3 separate regions of the Homo sapiens genome follow, and regions 2 and 3 are each linked to region 1. A link means that fine-mapping ties the variant in region 1 to the expression of a gene that starts in the linked region. Tissue or cell type: whole blood. Region 1 holds a variant in brackets; each other region holds the start of a gene. All regions are shown on one strand. Distances are from middle to middle.

Region 1 (5,148 bases):
TGACCCAGGACCTACGCAGGGCCCACTGCTCTGAACCTTAACACTTCTGAAACGGCTGGATGTCTCTGCATGAGCTGTGCTTACCCAGTTGTTCCATTTATTCTTATATTTTACAAGCATTTAGTAAATTCTTGAGCTAGGCCCTGGGGACTACCAAAGGAATAAGATATCTGTTATTTTTATTTTATTTTATTTCAATAGTTCTGGGGAACAGGTGGTTTTGGTTACTTGCGTAGGTTCTTTAGTGATGGTTTCTGAGATTTTGGTGCACCCATCACCCAAACAGTGTACACTGTACCCAATGTGTAGTCTCTTATCCCTCACCCCCTCTCACCTTTCCCCCTAAGTCTCCAAAGTCCATTTTATCATTCTTATGCCTTCGAATCCTCATAGCTTAGGTCCCACCTATAAGTGAGAACATATAGTATTTGCTTTTCCATTTCTGAGTTACTTCACTAGAATAATGGTCTGCAACTCCATCCAGGTTGCTGCAAATGCCATTATTTTTTTACTTTTTATGGCTGAGTAGTATTCCATGGTGTGTGTGTGTGTGTGTGTGTGTGTGTGTGTGTGTATACATATATATATATAATATATATAATATTTTATTTATTCACTCGTTGGTTGATGGGCATTTAGTCTGGTTCCATATTTTTGTAATTGTGAATTTTGCTGCTATAAACATGTGTGTGCAAGAAGACATCTGTTCTTAAATTGCTCTCAATTTAGTTAGGAATACTTAAAATGGCTACACTGCAGGATAGAAAGTGTGCACAAATGATCACCTTTTAAATAGATGCATGAGAAGAAAGAACTCTGAAACGCAGTGATAAGTATGGTTCAGTGGAGCCCTCAGGACCTATCTCAGTGTGTTCCTCTAGCATCTCTTCTAGTTTCCTCATGCACTCTACTTTCTAGCTGCACCTGCATTATGCTTAGCACCTGTCCTATTCCCTCCTTTACTCTGAACCCCAGGTTCCCCTGTGTTTTCATGAGCACCTGTCCTATTCCCTCCTGCACTCTGCTCTCTAGCTGCCCCTGTGTTCTCCTTAGCCCCTGACCTACTCCCTTCTGCACTCTGCTCTCCAGCTCCACCTGCATGTTCCTTAGCACCTGGCCTATTCCCTCTTGCACTCTGTGTTCCAGCTCCACCTGCATGTTCCTTAGCACCTGTCCTATTTCCTCCTTCACTCTGCTCTCCAGCAGCACCTGTGCACCCACAGGTGGCTTTCCAGCTGTGCCTCCTGCCTATGCCCTGAGGAGCTCAGCACCCAAGAGTGAATGGATCAAATTACTGACTCCTTTTTGGTGTCGATCATCATTCTAGGCTCTTCATACACAACGTAAAAGGCAACACATTGCTACCTTTATTCAACTAGAAGGAAATTAAACTTCATAAAAGTTATACCCAGAGACCTAGTGCATGGAAAAGGGGTTTGTGCAATTCTTTCCACTGCTGCTTTTTATACTCAGTGCCCTATTCCTCCCTGAAAGAAATTCTGTTCCAAAATGCTGCAGTCACTGAGATTCTTCACTTTCTTTTCTCTCTCTCTTATTTATTTGGCCTATTTTTTATTTTTTTATTTTTTTGAGACAGAGTCTCATTCTGTCACCCAGGCTGGAATGTGGTGGCTCAATCTTGGCTCACTGCAACCTCCACCTTCCAGGTTCAAGCAATTCTGCCTGAGCCTCCCAAGCAGCTGGTACTGCAGGCAAGCACCACTACGCCAAGCTAATTTTTGTATTTTTAGCAGAGATGGTTTCACTGTGTTTCCCAAGCTGCTCTCAAACTCCTGACATCAAGTGATCCACCTGCCTCAACCTCCCAAAGTGCTGGGATTACAGACATGAGCTACCATGCCCAACCTTCACTTTCTTCTCTGAGTCAGAGATCTCTAGCAAGATAGCCTTTTCACAATTTTTATTGCAATAGAAGTATTTGAGACCTTTGTCAGGTTAAACTGTTGTGAGTTAAAGGTATGTCTGTTTTTCTGAGATACACTGAATTTAGGAATGTATGACTCAGTAATGAAAACTTGATCTGGCATCACCCTAGGCATTTGAGCTCCCAGACAGAGAAGGATCTGTTTTTCCAATCACTGACAAAGCCTGGCATGATCATGGTTCGCAGGAATGCAGCACCCCAAGAGGACCCTAGCAATTGGGAGAATTTTGTTTATATGACACTAAGCCCCAAATGACCTTAAATTCTAAATAAAAGTTCCATGGGCAATTTGTATAAGGGCCTTGTTTTTAAAGAAAATAAATTATATGACAGGTTTGTTATATATATATTACAAACTATACTGGTGAACATTTTACTCAACATTTAAAAATCTTTAATTAAGACCTTTCAGTACATAAAGCTTACATAACAAAGTCTAGCAAAAGTCTATAAAATCTAAACACATTTCTAAAAGAAAGGGTGGTGCCACGAAAGTTTACATGCTGAGGCTTTCAGGGTGGCTATGCTGTGTTGGATGTGGGTGGTG[T/G]TCTCTCTCTCGTGGTTTTGCTTCTTATGTGACAGTTCCGGCTCACGAGAGCTCTCTGGGCCCGTCTGTTGGCTTGCATCCTGTGGCGTTTGGCAAGTGAGATCTGTTTAATACAAAGTGTCAATAAAGCCAAGGTTATGATAGTTAAAAATAATCGATACTAATTCCCTAGAAATTTTGTCTTTTTTACCAAGCCACTGGTGCAATGTGGAGTCACTACATTTTATGCAAGAAGAATAACACCCTCACTCCACAGTCTGAACCAGAACTGACACTCGGTGGTGATTCCCCCTTTATTCTAGGAGGTGTTAACATTAGCTATGGCAATGTAAAACCGATGTTTTTGGAAGCAGTAGGGGCAGGGAATGGAAAATCCTCTGCAGCTGTCAACATGGGGAGTGAGACAATGCTCGTGTTGACTTGTGGAACTGGATGAGAATCTACTGCTCCTTCTCTAGTGACAGTCTCTGTCATTTGCATAGAAGGTTAAACGCAGGGAGGGCACGGGGGTTCCATGTAAACTTCAGTAAGTTGCATAAACAGAGGCGGCGATGTTTTATGTCTCTGATCTTTTCCAAGGACATCTGGCCTCTGGGTTGCAGCGCAATGCTCACTAACAGAAGCTGACTCATTTGTGTTATGTCTCTGATCTTTTCCAAGGACATCTGGCCCCTGGGTTGCAGCGTGATGCTCACTAACAGAAGCTGACTCAGTTGTGTTTTCTGGTTTTGGGGAATATCTTTAATCACCACATGAATGTTTATAAACTGTTGGGGCTAAACATGAAACTCACTCTTCAGGTGCCGTCTCCACCTAGCCACCGTGTACATTTTCTTTCTCTCTCTTGCAGCTGTTCTCTTCCTACGGACTGAATGAAAAATAAAAGGAAGTCATTTCTGCATGTGTCACAGAGGCATCCTTTGGTTCTAAAGGAAGCTAAGTTGGATTCCACAAGCCCATGGTCCTTATAGCATGTGAATAGGATTCAGTCACGGACGAGAAGGAAGAGGTTCAGGAGAGACTGTAATCGCCCTGTCCAGGCTAACCCTCCAGCTGTGCAGGTGACAAGCTTGCCTGTGTTTGTGTTGTGTAAGTGTGTGCGGTACAGCTGCTAATGTAGTGTCCGGAAACATCTTACAAAGTAAGCCTTCCCCTACATGTAGTTTTATGTGGGTATAAATTCATTTCAGTTCTTGACATGAACATTTGTACAGTGCTTCCAAGTGAGGCTTTGACTGCCTCACATCTGGAATCCTTCAAGTTTATCCTTCTTGGAGTCAGTGTCGTGAACGTTTTTCCCCCAGGTCAAGAGTCTGCTGTCAACATGATGTTCTCTAATTACATGGCTTTGTACAACTCCCAGCTCTGTGGACATATGTTTTTGTATTTAAGGCATTCCTTCTTTTACCTCTGTTTATAGATCATCCTTGACTCTGCTCTTTTCCCACTGCCTTTATCTCAGGTCCTTCCCAAGGTTTTGTGCTGGCTGACTTCTTTTAAGTAATGGAAGAAGAGGACGTGGGGTCAGTCAGCCCAGCTTCTGATCCCTTCTCCACCCATTACTTGGCAAATTAAAGCTGTGTTTAGGCTTCATTTGTTTCGTCCTGGATTTCTCAAGAGTTACAATTTTTAGATATATTAATTACAATTATAGAGTTGTTTAAAGATCAAACAAGGCAATGTATATTGATGTGTTTTGTAATCTTTAAAACTCAATAGAAATGTAAGATCTTGCTATTACTATATAATTGTAAAATCTTCCATTTCTTGCTTTTTCTTTGGTTGCTGGCCTAGAAATTGAATCAATTCTCTTCTCTTTTTATTTTTTAAAAAATAATCTTGAGCATATGAAATTGCTGATATTTTAATATATTGCTAATGTTTGATCTATTCAAATGGTAGCTTCCTGTGGTTTCTTCTAATAGTTAAAACTATGTCAGGTCAGGCATGGTGGCTCATGCCTACAATCCCAGCACTTTGGGAGATCAAGGCAGGCAGATCACCTGAGGTCAGGATTTCAAGACACGCCTGGCCAACATGGTGAAACCCCGTCTTTACTTAAAATACAAAAGTTGGCAGGAGAATCACTTGAACCCAAGAGACAGAGGTTGCAGTGAGCCAAGATCACACCACTGTACTCCAGCCTGGGTAACAGATTGAGACTCCGCCAAAAAAAAAAAAAATATATATATATATATGTGTGTGTGTGTGTGTGTGTGTGTGTCTGTGTGTGTGTGTGTGTGTGTGTATATGTATATATATATATATATATATATATATATATATATCAAAGTGATATATTTGTATAGTGAAACCCCAGACACTACCACTAAGTGAATGATGATATAAAACTCTTATTTCTTATTTTGCTACAATGTTAGGTTCTCAACAATCATTCTGCCTCCCAGTTTACCTTGGTCTTTTTTCCCATTGGGATTGGTTTCCCTGAAATGTCTGGTGATTCTTCATTGTTCACATTTAATAGTGACACATGAAGAAGGAGAATGAGTCTGTGTTATCATTAGTGAAAGGCTCATCTAGAGGTGATTCTTCACTGTTCACATTTAATAGTGACACATGAAGAAGGAGAATGAGTCTGTGTTATCATTAGTGAAAGGCTCATCTAGAGGTGATTCTTCACTGTTCACATTTAATA
Region 2 (5,148 bases), 88 kb before region 1:
AATCATAAGAGTAGTGAAGCTAGCAATTCAGATACGGCAAAGAGAAGCCATAAGCACTACCCTTAAGTAAAAAGGTGAAAGTTTTTGACTTCTTATGGAAAGAAAAAAAAAACTTATACCGAGGTTACTAAGATCTACAGTACGAACAAATCTTCTATCCATGAAAATGTAAACAAGGAAAAAGAAATTCCTGATCGTCTGCTGTCTTGCCTCAAACTGCAAAAGTTGCGACCACAGTTTTAAATGCTTAGTTAAGGTGGCAACGGTATTACATTTGTGGGTGTAAGAAACGAGCAGACACATGTTCCAATTGACAGCAATTGGGTTTGGTACTACCCACAGTTTCGGGATCCACTGGGGAGTCTTGGAATGTATCCCCTACAGCTAAAGTGGGACTACTGTATATGCAAGGATACACTTCCCCATTAACAGCAACCATGATGCATTATGCCAGCATAATCGACAATACCAACCAAAACTATACAAGGGAATGGAATATTATTTAGTAACCATCCTTAACCAAACTACTGTTTAATAAACTTATTGATTTCATCATTCAGCCTTCAATGAGTCTTAAAAATCAAATGATGCCCACTACCAATGTGAAACAAGGTAAGCCTTCTAATTCGTCTTTCACAGAAGTTAACTTCTACAAAACCTAGTCAGCGTTTATCATATATTGTCCTAAAGCTGAAAACAAAATGAAAAATAAGCCACAGTTATTGCCATCGACAAAATTAAACTCAGCTGGGATTTCAACAGACTATCAAATAATTATAGTAAAATTTGTGTAATAAAAGATGTCGATAAGGAATCACACCTTTTCTGTATTACATCTTTTACTATATTACACAAATTATAGTAAAATTTGTGTAATAAAAGATGTCGATAAGGAAGCAACTCATGATCTGGGAAAGCAAAGGAGGAAATATTTAGGTTTGACTTTATAAAATAAAAAGGCTTTCCAGGCAAAATGCATAATGGGCACCCAGCGATGAAGGCTCAGTAAGCATGTGAAGTGCTACCGAACAACGAAAGGTTCTGGAAGGCAGTGTCCCGAGGGTGTGAGCAGGAAAAGGTACAGGAGATAAAGTGAGGAGTCTGTAAAAATAAACAGAAACTGCAGGAAATGCAAACTCACAGAAGGTTTTAAGTAACCGGACTACTGACAATTTAGGCCTTCCTCTCAGGGTGGAGGCACCGAGGAATATAACCTTGTAGTGCTACACCAAAGGAAGATCCCTGAAGACCAAACGGAAAATAAATTATGTTTGAAGTAAGGCAAGCTAAGTGTTGAAATTCTAGGAGTGAAAATAATTTAAGCTGGAAAGTTCCTGAAAAGCCATTAATAAAATACACTTTCATTTTTCATGGGCCAAAGTTATATAGGGACCTCCAGGTCTCCTTTGCTTGGCTTTTACAATCAAGAAACCCGAAACCGTAAAACTTCATCTCCCTTTAACTCAGATCCCTATCTAAGCATGGGCTAAGGAAACTAGCAAACAAAACAATGTTGTCATAGGACTCAGGAGGCCCCTAAGAGACCACATCAGTCCGACAACCTCCAGGCCTACCTGGGCCCATTGGAGGGGAACGAGAGGGATTCTAGTAGTCGCAAAGAAAGTACCTTGGCTTGTAGGGGCTGTGGCTGCAGATGCCAAGAGCCCCGGATATATGGCAGGCGCGAGGGGACCCAGGTTTAGCGGGCAGGCTGGGCGGGTGCACGGGGCGGATGGGGAACAGGGGCGCTGCGGCACACTCCTAGAACACCCTAGGCCTCCCAGTCCCTGGCCTCCTCCCCCTCATGGTTCCTAGGCCGGCGGCACAACCTACAGCGCACAAGCCCGATCCAACTCTCCAGAGGACGTCAGAACATGAGTAAGTCGGCGCCCTCTTACCCAGACACACAAACAGCACGGACTTGGTAGCCTGTTCCGCCATCTTCCCGCGCGCAGAGGCGCCGAGACACCGCGGCGTTCCGCACGCCGACGCGGCGCAGGCGCACTGCCACCCTCTTGCCCCGCGCGCCTGCGCAGTCCCGCACCAACGCCAACAGGGCAGCGCGTGTGAGAGCCACGCCTGCGCAATCGGCTCCAGTGCGCCTGCGGAGGCGGTCCTATGACGGTAGTAGGACGGGCGGGGAGGGTCCGCGGGTCACCTGCAGGGACTGGGCCGCCGTTCACCTGCAGGGGCGGGGCTGCAGGTTGTCCGGAGGAGGAGGAGCTGCGGGGGTGGGGTCACCTGGAGGGAGTAGGGCCGCGGAAGGCGAGGGGGTGTGTGTGTGTGGTGGCGGGGGTTGGCGGGGGGGAGTCACCTGGAGGGGGCGGGGCTGCGGGTCGCTTGGAGGGGAAGGAGCCGCGGGAGGTAAAGGTTACCTATAGGGGACGGGGCCGCAGGAGAGGGGTACCTGGAGGAGGAAGGGCCGCGGGTCACCTGCAGGGCGGGCTCAGGCCTCGCGGCTCCGCGGGCCGCCCACCTGGGTTGGGGCACAGCGCGAGTCTCGCGCACGTGGCGGGCTGTGGTGCCTGTCGTTCGAGTTCGCATAGAGGGGCTGGGCGGGTCACGCGGGGAACCTGCCTTGAGCCCCGCGGGGTCCACGCCGGACCAGGGCGGCCTTGGGCCTGGGCGCTCCCTGAGACCCCCACCCCCAACACCGTGCTTGGAGCCGCCGCGGGGCTCTGGGCTTTTCGATCTTGAGGACGGGGCGGTTCCGAAGTCCCTGAGGGCGAAGGCCTGAGCGCGGCCCGGCGGGCGCGTGGTTTTTGTCCCGCGAAACGTACACGGCGGGTGTTTTGCGCCGCCTCCTTCGTCACCTGCCGCAGGTACGCCCTCGCTGGGGCCTCCTTGTCCGCGGGGCGGGGCAGCGCGCCTTCCTCTTCCTGGGCAGCCTCGGGACGGGGCGCCGCGGCCGGGCGGGCAGCAGTGAGTACCCGGGGACCCACCTGTCCGGCAGCACCCTCCCCTCTCAAGAGCTGGGCGGTGGTGGGAGGAGGAGGACGGGAAAACCGGCGATGCCTCTGGGGTTTCTAGGTCGCGCGTCTGTTAACCGCAAACCGCCCAAAGTTAAGATAGAGCAGCTTCCAGGACTTTCTTGACCACAGCGATTTTGATTGAAGTTTAGCCACCGTCTTTTCCATTTTTAGAAAAGCTATTCCGAAGTTTGGAATGATGACGATGGTCGTGTTATTTTTAACTTCCTGATATTTGAACGGCGAGGTGTCAGCGACCATCCTTCCGTTCCACAGAAGCGTCTCTGAAGTTTGGGTCGAATGCGCGCGCTTGGAATGTGCGTGGAACCCGCGGCAGGCGCGGGGAGGAGGCCTTGGCTAGGGCGCCGGCGAGGTTCGAGTTTGCCAGCCCCCCAACCTGGAAGAGAAGGGCCAGCCCCTCACACCCGGAAGGGAAGGGCCGGTCCCCCCAACACCTGGCGCCGGGGTCGCGGGGCCACAGGGCGAGCGCGGGGTCGCGGCGAGCACGGGTCCTCTCTGATCGCTGGGCCTTGGCGCTGGCTGCTGAGTTTTTCCTTCTTTAAGGAAGTGTGGAACTGGTCTCAATCGGTTGACCACCTTAAGGAAATAGGATTTACACTGTGGACAGAGATGTGTCCTTTACACTTCATTTGAACCAATATGCCCATGCTCCTGTGGAGGCTGAGTTGGAAAGTGACACGAAGCTGCCCCCCCGCAAGAGAGCAGGTGCTCGGTTTCTCTTCTGCTTACAGGAGATGCATGTCCTGATTTCTTGTTCTCCTAGGTGTTTTTATTGAGATGTAGGGAATATCTGAATTCATAACGACTTAGAAAATCTGTACACACAGTTGAGAGAACAGGTCTCGAGGCTAAGGTGCTGTTTACTCCCGTGGGCTGGCCTGTTATTAAAATACTTGTGCAGCGACTGATGTTTACAAATTACTATGTTGGAGGTTAAAATGATCAAAGTGATAACCTCCATCCTGTCTATCATGTTTGAGGAGAATTGGTTATTTGGTTCACTAATGTTCTGTTTAAAGAAAATTTCTGTAAAACTAGTAAATGTTACCCCTCATCTTTTGTAAGTTAAAAAAAAGTTTAAAATAATGTTTGCTCATCAAAAGTGATTTGATACTTTTGTTCTGTTTAGGAAAACTTTATTCTCAAGAGATTTCTCATTCCGCAGAAATAAGGATCTGGCATGTCAACACAAACATAGGAAGTTGAGGCAGTCAAAGGGAAATAACTGCTACCCTGACTCTGCTGAGAGCCTCACAAGTCCCTGTGCACGCCAGCTTGTTTGCCAGTGAGTGGCGTCATGATAAGACAAAATTCTCTGCTCTGAGACCTAAGCACATGAAGTTTTTAAAAAAATTTTCTCTGAGAAGATCCCATTTTTTACTCTAAAAGATCAGACCAGTGTGGCATGTGTGGAACTGCTCTGTACCAAGATCACACTCTTCAGTTGGAGAAGAGGAAGGGCAGGAATAAATAAAGGGCTTTCCTGTCTCCCGAGGGAGCAGAGAAAGCTTTCGCTGTCCTCTTCCTTCCCCAGCCACAGCCTGGGGTTGGGGGACTGGAAACAAGCTCAGGCTAGCACTTGATGTTCAGACGGTAGTCTGAAAGTTTGACTAGGGAGTTAATGATCTGACCAGAGAGACAGGTTTTTATTTTGAGAACTGACAAGCTTTGTGTCCTTAAAACAAAGGAAGTAGTTAAACCAAGGCCCCAGAAAGGTAAGAATTGACTTAAGAAACAAAGGCCATAGTTGTCAAGCAGTGGAGTTCAAAATGCAGTTTTGTTAATAAAAGTAGCTTAAAGCAACATTTGAAAGCCTCTCTAAAGATTAGATACATACACTTTCTTTTGGCTAAGATTTCTTTAGTTTATTCTAAATATACCTTTAGCAGCATTCAAGTTCCTTTGATCTTAGATGGAATTTTATCAGTTTAATGAGTTAACCTCCATTTCACATAAAGTATAAGGTTTAATAATTTGATTAATATGTAATCAGTAAGAACTTGGAAAACCAAATTTAGTAAGCTTGCTTTCCTGTAAGTATTCCTTTCATAATTAGAGTCCATTGAAGAAAATAATATAAGGGAAGCAAAAGTTTGGGAATCTGAACTCTGGTAAGGAAAGTGGTGGAGAGGGGCCCTTGGGTCTTCTTGCTTTCATT
Region 3 (5,148 bases), 130 kb after region 1:
CTATCATCCCATCACCTAAGTATTAAGCCTAGCATGCATTAGCTATTTTTCCTGATGCTCTCTCTCCCCCTCTGTCTCCCCACCTCCCACCAGGCCCCAGTGTGTGTTGTTGCCCTCCCTGTGTCCATGTGTTCTCATTGTTCGTCTCCCGCTTATAAGTGAGAACATGTGGTGTTTGGTTTTCTGTTCCTGTGTTAGTTTGCTGAAGATAATGGCTTCCAGCTCCATCCATGTCCCTGCAAAGTACATGATCTCATTATTTTTTATGGATGCATAGTATTCCATGGTGTATATGTATCACATTTTCTTTGTCCAGTCTATAATGGGCCTTTGGGTTGATTCTACATCTTTGCCATTGTGAGTAGTGCTGCAGTGAACATATGTGTGCATGTATCTTCATAAGACAATAATTTGTATTTCTTTGGGTGTATACTCAGTAATGGTATTGCTGGGTCAAATGATATTTCTGGTTCTAGGTCTTTGAGTAATTGTCACACTGTCTTCCACAGTAGTTGAACTAATTTACATTCCCATCAATGTGTGAAAACGTTCCTATTTGTCTGCAGCCTCTCTAGCATCTGTTGTTTCTTGACTTTTTATAACAGCCATTCTGACTTGCGTGAGATGGTATTTCATTGGCTTTGATTTGCATCTCTCTAATGATCTATGATGTTGAGCTTTTTTCATATGTTTGTTGGCCACATAAATGTCTTCCTTTGAGAAGTGTCTGTTCATGTCCTTTGTCCGCTTTTTAATGGGATTGTCTTTTCTTGTAAATTTAAAACAGAAATTTTTACAGGTGACAAAACAACCTGGAACGTTTGTTACCTGTCCAAAGGTAAATTGTGGACCCAGGGTCAAATTCCAGAGGTCCTGTACTTTGCAGTTCTCTGTCTTAGAAGTGCTGCTGTTGCCCATGAAGTAGTGCAAATTAGGAAAAGAAGACACTTTGGGCTACACAATTAAAAAGGTTTTTTCCTCTGACTTAGGGAACAGGCTTGCCAAGCAGAGAGCAGGCTGGACTTTAGACCTCAAGGCCCCATCCTCCCGCATCCTGTAGGAAACCATCTGTGGCAACCCAGGAGCTCCCCCTTTCTCCATCTCTGTCCCTCTCTTTCACTCCCCACCCCCGCATCCTTCCTTCTCTTCTCCCACTCTCTACTTTATTGGCCTAGACTCCTTTTCCTATGAGTCTTACATGTTCCAACGAGGCTGTCTGGGCGGTCTGGCTTTCAGGAGGCGATTTATTGTTGTGCTACTATCCCTATGAAATTTTGCTTCGCTGGGGCTCAAGGAGATTAAAGACCCCCAAGGCCCACTCAGCACCACCCTGCTGCGGTCCTCTTCCTCGTTGGTGAGGTGTTCGTGCCCACTTTGGGGGCCCATCTGCACCTGTCGCCCTCCCTGCCTTCCGGGCTGCTGCTGCTCGGAGCGTTCAACCACAAGGCTGAAAGCACAGCCTGTTACGGAGTTGTCTTCACAACGCGATAACGTGAACATTTCACATGTCTGAGAGATAACTTTAGTATTTTGTCCAAATTTTTGAAATAATGGAGTTTGGGAAGTATTTTATCTTAGACTCTTAGCATTCCTAGGCTGATCCACTGCCTGGTGAACTCGTGGTTTCCCCGTTGCCTCGGTTACCGTAAAAATAGCAATGATTCTGGACACTTGGCTGGGCTTCTTCCAAATCCACTGAGCCGCGCCTGGGGCCCCAGCCTGCCCCACTGAGAGTCCTAGCTCGGTCCTCGGGCCCGGCCACGCCCGCTGCCGGCCAGCGACCGAGTCGGACCCAATCCGAGGCCCTGCGTTCTTGCCACCCAACACGTAGGCTGATCCTGGCGTGCGCTGCGTGTTCTTTCCTCTTATGTCCTATTCCTTTCTGTTAATAAGAATATGAGCTCAGGTAGACAAAATTAAACAGTCAAGTTTCCAAACACGATGAGGTCACTTTAAGAATTCAAAGGATGTGAGGCACCTGCCCGGGGGAGGTGGGGGGACGTCCCCTCTGCTCCCCCTCCCCGGAAATGCCTGCGTCCAGCAGTGACCTCGGGGATCTGGGGCTGAGCGAGTGGGGGTTCAGAGCCTGCTCGCCCCAGCGTCCTCCAGGCGGTTGGCAGCGCCGCCGGAAGGTGAGGGGGGGCGGGGACGGCACCGGGCAGGAGGTGAGGGCCGGGACCCCGGACGCGAGGTGAGGGCGGGCGCTGGCACCCGGAGAGCGGCCAGGGAGGCGGGCCCGGGCGGGAGTGAGGAGGCGGGGACGGGCGGGGACGAGCGGGGATGCGGGGACGCGGCCAGGGCCGGGGCACCGGGCGGGGGCGGGGGCGGTGCCAGTCGGTGTGGGCGATGAGGTCGGGAGGGGCGGGAACTGGGGAGTTTCGCCAATCGGTGCAGACTCCGGTTCTCCCCAACCCCGGGCCTGGGCAGCTGGGCACTGGGGCGCCGTTCCCCACCCGGCGCGGACTTCGGAACCGGCCCTGGGACTGACTGGCTCTACCACTCGAGCGCGTCTCCGCTGGACCCGGAACCCCGGTCGGTCCATTCCCCGCGAAGATGCGCGCCCTGGCGGCCCTGAGCGCGCCCCCGAACGAGCGGCTCCTTCCCCGGGACCCCGCGGCTACCCGGGACCCCGACGCCGCGCGGCCGGCGCGCAGGAGCGCAGTGGAGAGGCTGGCGGCGGATCGCGCCAAGTATGTGCGGGGTCGGCCGGGGACTGGCCGGGGCGTCGCTTCCGAGGGCAGCGGCCCGGGGGCGATCAAGTGCCCGGGGAACGACCCTGGGCCCCCGGCCCGCGCCCCGGCCCCGGTGGCGCGCAGGGCTATTGCGCGGAAGCCGTTGAGACCGGACTCGCTGATCATCTACCGGCAGAAATGCGAATTCGTGCGAGGATCGGGCGCCGACGGCCCCAGGGCAAGCCTGGTGAAGAAGCTCTTCCAGGGGCCGGGTAAGGACAAGGCGCCGGTGCCCCGGACGGGAGACGAGGGCAAGGCCGGGAACCCGGAGACGGTCCCGACCACTCCTGGCCCCGCGGCGGACCCCGCAATCCCCGAGACCCCAGCCCCAGCCGCGCGGTCCGCGGCGCCCTCCAGTGTCCCGGCCGCGCCCCCTGGGCCAGAGCCGCGGGTGGTGAGGCGTCGGGGGCTGCAGCGCTCACAGTCGGACCTCAGCTCCCGCTATTCCGCTGCCTTGGCCGAGTCTGACACCTTCTTCCAGTACTGCGGCCTGGACCCCGAGGTGGTGGAGGCCCTGGGGAGGGAGAACTTCACCGCGGGGTCGGACTGTGTGACCCTCAAGGTGCGCAGCGTGAGCGTCGCCACCTCCGGCAGCGGCTTCTCCCGGCACAGCGGCGGCGACGACGAGGGGCTGCAGGAGGAGGAGCTGATAGAGCAGGTGCCCAGCACCACTTCGGTCATCGAGAGGAACGCCCGCATCATCAAGTGGCTGTACACCTGTAAGAAGGCCAAGGAGACCCCCAGCCAGGAGCAGAGCCGGACCCGAGGTGTGTGCCCAGAAGGCTGGGGGCGGGGCTGGCCGTGTGCGGGGCTGTGAATCTTGGTGAGTGTGACCGAGCTGGGCGATGGCCAGTTACAGCTGCTTAGAATTGAGTGCGATTTTGAGCTACAGTGTGAAAGGGACCCAAGAGACTGACGCAGAGGCTTGTGAGTTGAGCCCCCGCTGCTGAAGAGCAGAAGGTACCAATCCAGGCACCTGCTGGTCCAGGCCCTTAGGAGTCTGCTGCGTCTGGCTGCCTGGAAAGGCAATTCTGCAAATTAATATGTCCCATTTGGCTTATTATTGTGAAAACAGGAGAAATCCAAAATGCTGCCAGAAAGCAGTTTTACACCCCTAGTATTCTTTCCTGAGCTGAAAACAGCTTGAGAGCCCTAGTTCCTGAGTTCATTGACCTGTGCTGTGGGCGGTCCTGATGTTTGATTGGAGCTGACCAGTCCACCTGCAGCCCTAGGTAGGCGCTGCTGTGTTACTGGAACAGAAAGGAAGACTCCCTGCACTTTCCTGGAGGCCTGTGCTGAAGTGGTGAGAACTTCTCCACAGGATCTTGTAGCACTTTGGCATTCACTTAGCAACAAAGATCTTTATTTGGCTAAATTTTATTTAAATTGTTTTGAGAGCTTCAGGTTTTTAAACTGGGGAAATTGGACTAGATTGTAACTAGAGTCTATAGTTTATTTGCCTCTGATGACACTACAGGAAGTAACCTCCCTTTGGACAACCAGTAGTGCCGGATTGACCTCGAGCTCTTTTTGCTTTTCACTGGGGAACTGAGGAGTGCTGGTCTTCACTGTTACCTGCTCTTCCCTATGGGCGTCTTGGAAAGTAGTGAAGAGAAAGAACCTTTTCAGGGCTGTCTTTGAGAACGAACAATTTAAACTTTGCGACATCTTTTTTTTCCTCTTACCCTTCAATGACAACTTGCTATAAGTAAATTTTAAAAATCATGAGATGAAATTATTTTCTGCCATTGTGATAAACTAAGTGAAGATGCATGGCAGCCTGTAGAGTTTGGGGGAGGCTGCCCAAGAGATGTTTGCACAGGGCTCACCTATGTTTGACAGCTAAAAATATCTCCAATAATTTCTCTGGCTATGACTTTAGTACAGACATGAAAATTAATGAGAAGAAGATAATTCATTCTTTTTCTTGAACTCAGAAGGCTCAGGACTTAAGTTCTTCCTTATAATTTATAGAAGATTTGTGTTTTCCACTAGCCTAAGTTCCCAACAAATATATATAGGCAAAGTTCTAAAAAGCAAACAAACATTAATTTGTAGTTTTCACAAATTGTCTTTTGGATCTGAGATGAATGAATGCTGGCAAGGGTATTTCCATGATGGCACCATGTGTAGGGCAGGAGCTTTGGAGAGTGGCCAGGTCCGTGGAGGGACAGTGTCTGGTGGATAGAGCACTAAACCAGAATTAAGGGCCTGTCTTATGTTAGCAAATGATTCCTGCACTATAGACCAGGCGTCCTTTGTCCATAAAAAGAAGGGAGATAGGCGGATGGTTTTCAACCTCTACATTTTCTAGTCTGTGTAGTAATAATCTGTGTTGCATGACTGAAACCCAGAAATGGAAAACAAACAAAAAAAAGTTGTCTATTGAAGTACGTGAGAAGTAAATTTATGAATA

Evidence for each region. PIP is the estimated chance that this variant, and not a neighbour inherited with it, causes the effect.
Region 2: it holds the start of SH3YL1, and the variant in region 1 is fine-mapped to the expression of SH3YL1 in whole blood (TOPMed, PIP above 0.99).
Region 3: it holds the start of FAM110C, and the variant in region 1 is fine-mapped to the expression of FAM110C in whole blood (TOPMed, PIP above 0.99).

Annotation. Positions count from the first base shown.
Region 1 is chr2:173,963-179,110 of GRCh38, reverse strand. It overlaps LOC105373324 (a long non-coding RNA gene), which reads left to right. Exons shown (of 4, transcript XR_922689.3): 2 at 3,343-3,553. Among named protein-coding and RNA genes, the nearest start is that of SH3YL1, 87 kb to the left of the region's middle. The variant T/G (reference allele first, on the strand shown) is at 2,493.
Region 2 is chr2:261,758-266,905 of GRCh38, reverse strand. SH3YL1 (SH3 and SYLF domain containing 1) reads left to right here and starts at 2,874. Exons shown (of 10, transcript NM_015677.4): 1 at 2,874-2,922. The coding sequence starts at 2,922. ACP1 (acid phosphatase 1) reads right to left here and starts at 1,959. Exons shown (of 6, transcript NM_004300.4): 1 at 1,899-1,959. The coding sequence starts at 1,941. RefSeq lists an enhancer at 1,849-1,898 and silencers at 2,249-2,328, 2,399-2,978.
Region 3 is chr2:43,791-48,938 of GRCh38, reverse strand. It overlaps FAM110C (family with sequence similarity 110 member C), which reads left to right and starts at 2,434. Exons shown (of 2, transcript NM_001077710.3): 1 at 2,434-3,499. The coding sequence starts at 2,554.